Linked DNA regions of Homo sapiens: all the other regions are linked to region 2. The links come from fine-mapping of genetic effects on gene expression. A gene starts in region 2. Each other region holds a variant in brackets. All regions are shown on one strand. Distances are between the middles of the regions.

Region 1 (4,191 bases), 97 kb before region 2:
GACAAGGGCTAGAGAACTGGACAGGGTTTCACTGCTAGACAAAACACTGGAGAGGAGCCCAGCGGGAGGGAACCCAGCAGGGTGGGGCACAGCAGGGTGGGGTGCAGGGCCCCTGAGCTCATGTCTGGACACGGCCTGTATCCTGTGAGAGCCATCCAGGGGAAGACAAGAGGCAGTTGCACATGTGGGTCTGGAACTCAAGACAGCCAGGAACACATTTGGGGAGCGATTAATACGGGATAATAATCCTATAATCCTAGATATTGGAGTGTGGAGAGCCCCAAAGGTGAAGGAAACTAGAAGAGACTATCTTGTTGGAAAGAGCATTTGTTGAAGGAGGTAAAGAAGATGTCAGGTAAAAAAGAGATGTTGATGAACTGGACATCCCAGTGAAGTCAAGGAATTGGTGTTTGAAAGTGTCCATTGGACCAGTGAGGAGGGCACTGGTGACCCAAGATAATGTTCCCCGAAGATAACATTGTTAGGAATGATGGAGACGCGTGTGCCTTCGTGGTGCTGGGAAGTGTGAAGACAGGGCTCAGAGCGTCATAGCTTTTGAGGTCAGCATACTCTGCGTTGGCAGGTGACTGGTTAAGGGCCTGGGGCAGGTATAGATTCACAGGTTTGCCTAGCTCTTAAAGCCTGAGGTCAACACAGATTCCAGTAGTCTGAGTGCATTCCTCCAAAAAGCCACAGATGCTGCATGTCGGGACCACACCAAATCCAAAGACACACAAAAAAGTGGTGAAAAGGGGTGGAGGCTCTGGGCAGAGCCTTGACTGTAGCTCTGTAGCTGTCCAGTGGTGTGTCACTCAGAGGGAAGCCCTTGTTTAGCTCTGGTGTATATCCTTCCAAGCATTTCCTATAGATGCAGATTTTTAAAACAAAAGCAATAGTGTGTCTACCATTCAGTAATCTGCTTTTATTACTTACTCAAACATAGACCTCCTTCCGTGTTAAAATAAGTCTGTATCATCATTCTTAAGGTTGCATGATACATCTTTTGGCTATCATACCATAACATAGTTTCTGCCGTTTTGCTATGAGACACCACTTGTTCTCTTACTTGATTTTTTTCCTTGGAATATATTCTTCGGGGTGGAGTGGCTAGGCTGCGGATGTGCACATGAAAACTGACCCAAATGCGACCCAAACAGGCACAAAGGAAGTGCCTGTTTCTATTCCCTGTAGTGACACGTGAGCACCTGTTGTTTTCTCCTCTTTGGTGTCTCTTACTAGTGACCTTGACCTTCATTTTGTGTGTTTATTGGCTGTTTGCATTTTTTCCTATGCCTATTCAGGTCTCCTCATAGCCTTTTATTGAGGTGTTTCTTTCTAATTGACTAGTGAGCACTATTTATAGATCAGGCATCAATCCCTTTGTCTTTTGGCCGCACGTGATTTCCTCTCTGTCATGTCTGTTAATCCTCCTCCCTTGTAAGAACTTTTCGATTTTTATGAGTCGGCTCTGTTAATCTTTTACTGCATGACTCCTAGCTGTGATGGTGCATAAGAGGAATTTTCTTGCTGCAGAATTTGCACTTAAAGAGCTAGAAGGGAGGGGACCTACTGTCAAGGGTAGATGTTTTTAGCATGAGGGCAACTTGAAGAAGAGAGGAAAGGAGACAATTCTGGAGGCTGTTAGAAGGGGACCCCCTCACCCCACAGTAGGACACCATTCTGTGTGCTGGGAGCTGCGGACACTGAGGCGAGTATGGATACACAAGTGAAAGCCTGGGCTTGGGCTGGAAGAGATGCTGCCTCCAAGGCAGAAAGGAAGGAGGTAGCGTGAAGTGGGTT[GT/T]TCTGTGGTGGGTCAGTCTAGAGGAGAGGGCAGAGAAATTGAGGTAGGTCATGAGCCAGGGCTGCTTCTGAGTAGATGATATGAGGGCCCTGGTTTGAGCAGCCCCATGGGGAATGGGGCAGAAAATACCCAGGAAAAGCAGGATTGCCCAGCAGTGTTGCTGACTCAGCAGCGTTGGAATCCTCAAGTCTGTGAATCCACCTCTCACTTAAGGGATGTTTTTTTCCTAGTTCTTAGCTGCACTGGCCCAGAGGAGGGGACAAAGCCACCGGGCTTGTTCAGGTTTGGACCTGATGTCCTCCCTGGAATGACAGGAGTGTGAAGGCTCATAGTGCCTGGTCAGCCCTGGGCTCCAAGTTGACTAGTGAGAAAATCAAGCTTGAGGTTCATTTTGAATAGTTAAAAATTTTAGATTAAGATATCACTATAAAGCCTAATCATAGGCTGGGCATGGTGGCTCATGCCTATAATCCCAGCACTTTGAGAGACCGATGTGGGCTGATCACCTGAGGTCAGGAGTTCAAGACCAGCCTGGCCAACATGGCAAAACCCTGTCTCTACTAAAAATACAAAAATTAGCCTGGTGTGGTGGCAGGCACCTGTACGCCCAGTCACTTGGGAGCCTGAGGCATGAGAATCACTTGAACCCAGGAGGTGGAGGTTGCAGTGAGCCAAGATCGCGTCATTACACTCCCGCCTGGGTGACAGAGTGAAACTCTGTCTCAAAAAAAAAAAAAAAGGCTAATTATGGCCAGGCACAGTGGCTCACGCCTACAATCCCAGCACTTTGGGAGGCTGAGGTGGGAGGATTGTTTGAGCCCAGGAGTTCGAGCCCAGTGTGGGCAACATAGTGAGACCCTGTCTCTACAAAAAAATTTAAAAATTATCTGGCTGTGGCGGCACACGTCTGTGGTCCTAGCTACTCAGGGAGGCTGAGAGGGGAAGACTGTTGAGCCCGGGGGTGTCAAGGCTGCAGTGAGCTGTGATCATGCCACTTGCAGATCAGCCTGGGCAACAGAACAAGACCTTGTCTCAAAAAAAATTTTTAATTTTAATTTTAAAAAAGCCTAATTGTAATAAATACCTGGGATAGACTTAGCCTTAAGTGTTGTTGATCTTTATGGTCACTGTTTTTGTACATATTTGCAAAAGAGGGGAAAAGAATGTTAGTTCTATAAATCCTTCCAACTGTACCAGTACCCACAGCCTCATCCTGTCAGAACATGAAAACCTGTAAGTGATACAATCCTGCCTATTTCTTGGAGAAACATTGTAAAGTCTGCATGTATACATATTTAAAAGTAGTAGTCAGTCTAATATAATAAAGCCTATTTTTATTTTATAGGTAAAAAGAATGAATGCTTGATTTGTAAAGCTCCTTGTCGTACAGTTTTGCTTTCAAAGCATGTAAGTTGAAATGTGTCGTATCTGCATCTTAATCACAGTCATATTTCCTTTTAAATTTGATATTTAATTTTTAGTCATTTGTGGTGTCTAAAATTTTCAGTCACTTTGCTCCGTTAACAAAGATATCTGAGTAATCAAAATGCAGTTAGGATTTAGTTTTTAAAACTTAATTTTTAAAACTTTCTTAGCTATAGATTGACCTTATTCCTAGGTTGTTGAATCGTGCTGTGTTCCTGGAAATGAAAGTGGGTTAAATAGATTTCTGCAGCACAATACAGGCACCTTAAGAGGGTGATAGAGTTTGGATTTGTATAGGGGTCATATATAATTAAGAGTGTTGTTCATAAAGTAAGTTTAAAATCAATTACTGCTGCAGGCTTAAAACAATGCCTTTTGTTCTCTCTATAAAATATTCAGTTTAACTTGTTATTGGTATAAACAAATGATTGGTCTTTTCTCTGCCTGATCTCCAAAATGTGCATTTGGTCTGATGATTTAAATATAATAGTTGTTTTTTTGTGATTACAAACATAATACAAAGTTACACAACATTCGTATAGTACAGAAAATTATAATGGCAAATGTGTAAGTCCTGCCGGGCGTGATGGCTCATGCCTGTAATCCCAGCACTTTGGGAGGCCAAGATGGGCGGATCACGAGATCAGGAGATCAAGACCATCCTGGCCAACTCAGTGAAACCCCATCTCTACTAAAAATACAAAAAAATTAGTTGGGCGTGGTGGTGGGCGCCTGTAGTCCCAGCTACTTGGGAGGCTGAGGCAGGAGAATGCGTGAACCCGGGAGGCGGAGCCTGCAGTGAGATGGCGCCACTGCACTCCAGCCTGGGTGACTGAGCGAGACTCTGTCTCAAAAAAAAAAAAAAAGTGTAAGTCCCCAGATCCTGTTTCCCAGAGATGACAGTGACCAGGAGTTTGGTACCTATTCTATGTGTGTTATTGTGATTTACCTTTTCATAAAAATGG
Region 2 (4,191 bases):
AGTGTAGCGATGTGCCGATTCCAGAACTTATGACCCAGCGGGAAATGGCTTTTCAAAAATAACCCAAGCCCTCTGCATGCTGGTCCTTGGCCTAACGAAGGTGCACAGTGGGCTGTTCAGAGCAGGAGAAACACACTTGGATGGACCTCGCGCCCTAGTCCACGCTAGGAAAATCAGCACAGTCCGGAAGAACCTCCTCCCCACCTCCACCCAAACCACAGAGGCCCCTGCCCTTGGAAAGCAGCTTGATCCCAGCTCCCCAGTGCCGCCAGGGCCTTTGCCACGCAAAGCCAGGGCTGGATATCCTCAGCCCCAAGGCCGCAGCTGAGGAGGACGAAGGCGAAGGGGGTGGCCGCTGGGGCGTCTCCACGAAGAGGCGGGCTCTGCCGCCCACTGCCATGGCTGACCGTGGCCATCCACCAGTCAGCTTCAGCCCCAGCCAGGAAACATGGCAGGACAGAGGCCTCCAGAGCCTCCCTGGCCGAGTGGCCAGAGGACAGGCAGGTGTAGGGATTGGGGAGGCCAAACAGATCAAAGAGAATGCAAGTCCAGGCCGCTGGCCATGGTAGGGGCTCGCCCAGTATGGCCTGAGTGCCCACACAGCCCAGGACGCTGCCGGGCCCTCAGAGCAGCCGCTCAGCCAGGCCCATGTGGGCAGGCGGGGGGTAGGGGGGGGTGCTGTGGCATAAGGCCCACCTGGTCACCGCCCGCCACCCAGCACCCGAACGTGCCCATATAAGGCCAGGTTGGATGCGGCGCGCTTGCTGGGCGGCAGGGGAGGGGTGCGAAGCCTCAGGACTGGTGGACACAGCGCGGACAATCCTGAGTGGTCAACACGCCCAAAGGGCCGGCCTGGCCACAGGTCCCGCCTAGCCATGGGGGCAGCCAGCGCTGTGCCCGGATCCTGGAACATGGCGGGCATGAGTCTGCGGGCACACGTCACCCATCGGCTCCGGATGTCCTTGCTGGGGCTGGGTCCCAGGGCATGGCTGCCACTTAGATGTCGGTGCCATGAGCACGTACCAGGCCAGCACAGCGTGTGCCCAGAGGCACGCAGTCCTGGGGTGCGTCACGGCTCTGGGGACTTGTCCACACAACCGCCCGGCACTGCCTGCCTAGAGCTGGGCAGGCCCAGGGCACACGGCTAGGTCGGCTGGGGGACTGGGGGTCTGGGGGTCAGTTTCAGTCCCAGACACCAAGTATATTACCAATATCTCCCATAGCCCATCCTGCCTTCCGTGGGGGTCTCTGCAGGTTCCCAGAGTCCTTATCGGGTCCACTGTGGCCACAAACCGCCCACTCCCCAAGAATCCACAGGTGATTAGCTGCCCTGGACTGCAGGTACGAGTATGAAAGTGTTTGCAAGACCAGGAGCATGTCCTGGGGAGCCAGGACTAAAGCCCACCTGGCCAGCAAGCACGCATGAGGGGAACCCCTCCAGCCAGCTAGGGGAGCCCCGGTGGGTGCTGTGGACAGCCCATGGGTGAGGGGGCCCTGGAAGGAAGGGGGCCTGGCGAGCGGGGCGGCAGGGGCGGGGCATGGCGCGTGCCAGGCGGGCACTGTGGCAGGGTTCAGGGCCGGGCGGGAAGGGGGCGGCGCTGGCGGAGGCCAGGCTGGCCGGGCTGGGCGCCAGAACTCACCTCGGGCGGCGGCGGCCGGCGGGAAGGCCCCCAGCAGCAGCGGCGGCAGCAGGAGCAGCAACAGGGGGCTCGGCGTCATCTCGGCCTGTCCGGACCTGGGGACATTGGGGGCGCCGTCACTAACACGTGGAACTGGGAGATACCGCCCTCCCCGGTCCCGGGCCGCGGGGATCAGGGGTCTGGCCGCCCTCCCCACAGGCCCTCCCCGCCCGCGCTCCAGGCGGAGGAAGCCGCAGCGGGGAGAAGCTGTGGGTATCAAAGGCAGACAAAGGGTTTACACTAATTACCGGGCTCCCCCGCCGCCCCCCCTCTCCAAACACCGTCTGGATTCCTGGCGCTTGTAACTCCGGCCCTGCCCGCAGGACACACAACACTCAGCGCCCCGCAGATAATCGCCTGCGCCATTAGCGGACAAATTTGCGCTGGGGGGGGCCCACGTGGGGCGCGGGGGCGGGGGCGGGGCAGGCCGGGGGCCCGCAGGAGCGGCGGCGGCGCGCATGACCCGTGCCCAGCTGGGGCCCCGAACCCGCCCCTCCCCGCCCCCGCCCCGGACCCCCGCCCTCCCCCGTGTGCCCACCTGGGGTCGCGGCCGCGCGCGCGGGGGGCTCACCTCGGCGGGGGGCTCAGCGGGCGGGCGGCGGGGTCAGGGCCGGGCCCGCGGCGTGCGCTCCGCGGTCATCGCCGCCCCGGGCGCCGCATCCCGCCGCCCCGCGCCCCCGGGCCCGGTCTCGGGGCGGGGCGGCGCTACCTGGGCGCGGGCGGCTCGGGCCGGGTCGGGGTCCGGGCTCGGGCGCTCGGGGCGCGGGGTCCCGGACCGGGCAGGCGGCGGGGGCGAGTCCGCGGGGCCGGGGGCCGGGGCCGGGATCCCGGGGCGGCGGGGCGAGGGGCCCGGGGCGCCGCGCCGCGAGGCGTCCTTCCCTGCGGGGCTTTGTCAACTCTCCCGGAGCGAGCGCCGAGCCCGGACCCCCGACCCGCCCCCGGCACAACTTCCGGCCAATCCGCGCGCGTCAGCCCTCCCCCGTGCCCCGCCCCGCCGCCAAACTTTTCCCCAATCCGCGCGCGCACACCGCCCCCGCCCCGCCGGGCTCCCGGCCTTAACCCTCGCGGTGCGGACGTCCCCGCGGGCGGGCGGCTTCCCCGGGTCCGGCCCCGCCCCCGCCCCCGCCCCGCCCCAACCCGAGCCTCGCCGCGCCCCCGGCCCCGCCCGCGCGCCCTTGGTCCCCGCAGGCTCCTAGGACCGGCCAGGAGCCGCCGCGCCCTCCCCATACCTGCGCCCGCGCGCGCCCGGGTCGGGTCCTCAACTCTCGAGACACCTCCGCGACCCCCAGAGCAGGCTCCGGCCCTGCCCGCGGCAGTCTGACCTCTGCGCAGCCCCGGGCCGGGCCCAGACCGCTCTCTGGTTGCTCAGAAGGGGGCGGACTGGACGGCCGCGGGAGCTTCGAGGCTTCCAGGTCTGCGCCCCGGGGGGTCTTCGGGAGCAGAAGGGAGAAGCAGGGCCTCGCCCAGCCGGAGCTGCTGGGGACGGGGTAGGGGGGGACGGCCGCGGCGATGCAGGCAGGGGTCCTCCCCGGGGCGTTCGGGTTACCTGGTGCCTTTGGCCAAAGGTATGTTCCCACCTGAGGCCTCCCAGCCTCTCACCTGCTAGTGACGGGAATGACAAGAACATTAATCATCGTAATAGACGTCAACATGCGATTCAATCTCCGCTACCGGGCAGGCGGCCCCAGGAGCAGATGAAGAAACGGAGGCGTGGAGAAGACAGCGCCCAGCTCTTCGCGGCTCTTCCTCCACACGCCTCGCCTGCCGTCCCTGCCCAGGGCCCAGCACGCAGGGCTCCCAGGCCGCACCTCCAGCCGCCCCATGGCCTCCCCTCATCCTGCCTCCCAGTCTTGCAACACAAACCTCACGGCCTGCCCACATCCCGCCTCACACCCTCGACTCCGCGGAGTCACCATCCCAGCACCTCCTCCATCCCCCAGAGCAGCCTCTCTTTCTGGGGCCTGAAGCCCCCTCTTCCAGGAAGTCCTCCCAGGAAAGGCTGAAACTGGAGAGGCCTGGCAGCCGGTGTCCCCAGGCCGAGGAGAGCTAGGCGGGGCGTGGGGGGCGCCAGCTGTCAGGGTGTGGGACTCCTCAAGGCCCGAACTACCCGGCCGTCCCAAGGTGCTGGTTCCCAGCCCAGCGTCCTCCACCCCAAATCCCGCGTCTGGGCCAGCGTGGGCGTCGCGAGGGCGGATGGAGGTGCGCTCGGACGGCCCATCCTGCCCCCGCTGGCGCAGCCGCCGCTGTGCACCCGGGGAAGGGTCCAGGGACCGCCGCGTGGTCCTCCCGGCGGGAGAACGTCCTGCGCCGCCGCCGCGGCCCTGTCCCACAAGGAGCCAGCAGCGCCGGGGCCCACCTGCCGCCCTCCCGGCCGGAGCTGCAGTCACGGACAGGTGGGTGGGGCGGTCTCACGCCCGTGGGAGAGCGGCGCTGAACTTCCCGGACAGCTGGCGAGGAGGCAGCGCTCCCACAGATGTGCGGGCTGCCGGACACAGGTGCGTGGAAAGGGGAC
Region 3 (4,191 bases), 39 kb before region 2:
GCAGCGGCCGCCTTGGTTCTCGCAGGTGGACTTGCTGGAGCTGATCCTGCAAAGGAACGTGGCCGGGGCTGTCCTCATGCCTGTGGTGTTCCTTAGGGGACTTCTTTGAAAACTTTGCCAAGAAATATTGCCCCGGGGCTGCCCGCCACTGCCTCACCCTCTCTCCAGGCAGCCCCGGGCCCTTCTGTCTGGGGGCTGATGAGTGGTCCCTGATTTTAAAATTGCAATTTCTTCCATCACTTCACCTTTCTAGACATAAACTTGAAGCCATACTTGTAGCATTTCCTGTTCTTTATTGTTGTTGTTTTTCACAGTTGAGCCTGCATTTGGCCAGGGTCCACCCTGCAGCACCTGGTTCTGTCCAGACATTCGCTAGGGGCAGCCCTTGCGCCTCGATTTGCCACTGGCCCACCTCAGCACACCTTTCTTTGTTTTCCAGTGATTGTCACCAGAAAAGTCACAATTTAGTAAAACATCCAGACAGTGGCACAAGCTTACTCCGTGGATGGAGGTGACAGCACTGCCGAGGCGGAACTCCCGCCTGTCCTCATGCAGTGCATGAAAGCCCACGTTCAGCCCAGGAACAGCAGCGCAGGGCCTGAGGGATGATGTGTGAAGGCACGAGCTGTGTGAAACAAGACTGTGAAAGCCCAGGGCCAGCCGTGGGGTCATAATGGAGCAGCAGAGACTGGCAGGGGGGCAGGACCACGGAGGGGCAGTGCCCTCAGCTCTTCATGCGCGTCCTGGGCTAGAAGTGGGCGGCACCTTTTCTGCAGGCTCTGCCACTCCCACGTGTGGGTGTACAGCAGCCAAGCCTTTCCCCCACCCCCCACCGCCTGCTGTGAGTTGTCCTGCCCGGTGGTGTCTCGTGGGCTGTGCTGCAGGCAGTGGGGGGCTGCCTCCACCACTCACGGTGCAGCTGTGATTCAGGGCCAAGACATAACCTTGGGCTGAGTCCCCCACCGCTGTGCAGCCTCAGGCATCATCCCTCAGGCCCTGCGCTGCTGTGAGGACAGGTGGGAGTTCCGCCTCGGCAGTGCTATCCATCGGCTCTATCCACAGAATAGCTTTGTGCCACTGTCTGGATGTTTTACTAAATTTTGCCTTTTTTGGTGAAAAAAATGGTTCCCTGCTGTATTAGTCTGTTCTAACGCTGACATACCCGACTGAGACGGGATAGTTTATAAAGGAAAAAGGTCAAATGGACTCACAGCCCCACATGGCTGGGGAGGCCTCATAGTCATGGTGGAAGGCAAAGAAGGAGCAAAGGCACATCTTACATGGTGGCAGGCAGAGAGTGTGTGCAGGGAACTGCTCCTATAAAACCATCAGATCTCATGAGACTTATTCACTCTCGTGAGACCAGCATGGGAAAGACCCGCCCACATGATTCAGTTACCTCCCATCGGGTCCCTTCCACAATGTGGGAATTGTGGGAGCCACAGTTCAAGATGAGATTGGGTGAGGACACAGCCAAACCACATCACCTGCCCATCCAAGCACCACGTCCACAGTTCAAGATGAGATTTGAGTGGGGACACAGCCAAACCACATCACCTGCCTGTCTAAGCACCACGTCCATCTCATCAACCAGCACAGCAAGGCCCTCGTGGTGACAGCATAGGGAGGCAGATGCCAACAAGACATGTGGTTCGAGCTCTCTGTGTGTGTTACGGGAAGTCCAGAAGTGCCAGGGGAGTGGACACGTTGCTCATTGTGATTTTTATTTTCTCACTAAGCTTCTGAGTTTTGAGGGAAAAAATATTTGAGACTAAAACTAATGTTTATAGACAGATGTCATTAATGCTGGGTGGGATTTGGAGGAAATGCTGGAGAAGGAACTCTGCCAGAAGGAAGGAAGCCGTTCACTGGACTGATTAGTGCAGACGGACTCCGTGAGTTCACACAGCATTCTTCAGGAAAATAATGTGATGTTAGCTCAACTTGACCACATTTTGTTTGCTTCAAGATGTTTGCCACTAATAATGCTGTTCTCTGCAAATTAAATGAAAAAATGGTCATTTTGCTGGCAGTGTGAGAATGTTTAGTTTCATAGCTGGTTAACAAACAAAGGCAAAACACTTCCGGGTCAACAGTGGCCTCAGCCACATTTCCATCCATTCCCGTCCGAGCGACCCGCGGCCTCTGCAGCAGTGCTGGCCGGCAACACTG[G/C]AGGGCGCTAGACCAAGGGAGCCTGAGCGGTGCCCGCGCCCGGCTGGGTTTGTTGCCCCAGGAAAGCGTCTGTTTAGTGCCGCCCGCCGAGTGTGAAAGCGTTGAGCAACTCAGCAAAGCGACGACCTGGGCTGATGAGGCAGGATTGGGAGCGCGTGAAGGCAGTGCCCAGCAGGCACAGCCAGCGCTCGTGCCGCGCCATCCGCCAGCTGCCTGGCTTATCCACAACCAGGGAAGCAGCGGGGCATCCTCAAGCTGCCCTGTGTGGGGTGCTGTCTGTGAAACAGCAGCAGCAAACCCAGAAGCCGAGGTTAGACACTCAGCATGCGAGGAAAGCACGCAGAGGCGGAGGCCGCGGCGCTCAGAAACTGCCGTATTTAGAGATCACGCGGAGCCATAGGGTAAGTCTTTAGACTGGATTCTTGTTTCTACAAGTAGTGCAGACCCCCACCATGGTCCTTCAGAAGCAAATGCACAGCGTGGACATAAAACGATGAGACCAACTGTGAACTTCTCAGGGTGGCTTCACAGCCTGGGCTGTGCCTTACGATGCATTGTATTCAAAGGTGCCCAATGATGTGATTTGCACCTAATCCATTGACGGGTAATCAGCATTTTACTCCAGTAGGTACTAAATCAATATTTGACTATTTCTCTCCACCATCATGGCTCCCGATTCCTCGTGGCCCCAACTGTGGCAGACACCTGGAGATGGAGTGGCTGAGGGGCGTCCCCAGGCCTCTCCCCAGCTGCTGGGCCCAGCCTCCACCTTCAGGCGCTCCCCCACTCATAGCACAGCACCTTCTAGACCTGTTTCTGGTCTTTCAGAATTCCTATTTTGTTGGACTGAGGTCCTTTGTTTTGATTTTAATAAAAATGGGGTCACACTTAGCCTGACCAACATGGCAAAACCCCGTCTCTACTAAAAATACAAAAATTAGCCAGGCGTGGGTGGCACACACCTGGAATCCCAGCTACTTGAGAGGCTAAGATGGGAGAATCACTTGAACCTGGGAGGCAGAGGTTGCAGTGAGCCAAGATCACGCCACTGCACTCCAGCCTGGGCAACAGAGTAAGACTCTGTCTCAAAAAAAAAGGGGGGGTCACACTTGAGGTTGTTCCATGGACTGGCCCCTTTGTTTGGCGTGAGCTCTTGTAGCTCACTCACAGAAGTGAACCACGACTGCGTGTTCCGCTCTGAGAGGCACCGCGGCTTCCTCTCTTCCCGTCACAGACAGTGCAGCCATGAGCACCACTGCATCGTCCTTGGCGACGAGCCAGGCCCGGGGGTCCTCCTGGGCTGCATCTCCTGCCGGGCACCAGCTTCCTCCGCCCCTTCGGCACTCGCCAGCCAAGCTGCAAGGGGCACACTGAGGAGCAGACAGGCAGCGCTTCCATGTCGGCGCCATGCCCAGCACCCTGACGGAACACGTGACCGAGGACACAGGTGCAGGGGGAGGCAGGGGACTAAGACCCTGAGCAAGTCATGAGCAGGCAGCACCCTAAGACGCTGTCCCAGGACAGCCAGGAGGTGAGCAAGGCTGAGGGAGGGGAGCAGAAGGCCAGTCTCAGTGCTGGGGACTGTGTAGGACCCAGGCAGCCTGGGGTGAGGGGGTGCTAGGGAGGGGAGAGGAGAGGTTGGGAGGTCTGGAGGGGCAAGGGTGACTAGCGTTCCAATGATTCCCCTGATGAGTTCTGCCAGTCCCGACAGGACGGTGTTGGAGGTTCAAGGCTCAGAGCTGCCACAGAGGAGGGCGTCAGTGAGGAGATGGATTTGAGCATCGCCTGCCTGAGTGGTGGGACAGAGAGCCAGGATCTGTGGCCACAGGGGAGGCCGGGCCCCGGGACCCTGGGCAGGAGCTGCTGGCTGTGCTGGGGGGCAGTGATGGAGAAGAGGGCAGGAAACCCGAGGGAAGCTGAGTGACAGGGTTTGGCTGTGTCCCCACACAAATCTCACCTTGAATTGTACTCTCCATAGTACCCACGTATCAAGGGCGGGAGCAGGTGGAGGTGCCTGGA

Direction of the effects. Alleles are on the strand shown, and positions count from the first base shown. SD is a standard deviation of normalised expression in the study named. Not every link is listed here.
In carriers of allele T in region 1, the expression in fibroblasts of the gene that starts at base 2,579 in region 2 tends to be lower than with GT alone (small effect, 0.17 SD a copy in GTEx).

The links.
Region 1: its variant is fine-mapped to the expression of FGFRL1 in fibroblasts (GTEx, PIP 0.95).
Region 3: its variant is fine-mapped to the expression of FGFRL1 in tibial nerve (GTEx, PIP 0.97).

What each region holds. Positions count from the first base shown.
Region 1 is chr4:1,107,360-1,111,550 of GRCh38, reverse strand. RNF212 (ring finger protein 212) reads left to right here. Exons shown (of 10, transcript NM_001131034.4): 2 at 3,147-3,208. Among named protein-coding and RNA genes, the nearest start is that of RNF212, 4.1 kb to the left of the region's middle. The variant GT/T (reference allele first, on the strand shown) is at 1,801.
Region 2 is chr4:1,010,014-1,014,204 of GRCh38, reverse strand. It overlaps FGFRL1 (fibroblast growth factor receptor like 1), which reads right to left and starts at 2,579. Exons shown (of 7, transcript NM_001004356.3): 1 at 2,251-2,579; 2 at 1,641-1,735. The coding sequence starts at 1,719. RefSeq lists enhancers at 1-55, 3,624-4,191 and silencers at 1,838-1,907, 2,587-3,106, 3,937-4,006.
Region 3 is chr4:1,049,019-1,053,209 of GRCh38, reverse strand. LOC105374343 (a long non-coding RNA gene) reads right to left here. Exons shown (of 2, transcript XR_001741546.1): 2 at 1,704-1,995. Among named protein-coding and RNA genes, the nearest start is that of FGFRL1, 39 kb to the right of the region's middle. RefSeq lists an enhancer at 1-445. The variant G/C (reference allele first, on the strand shown) is at 2,173.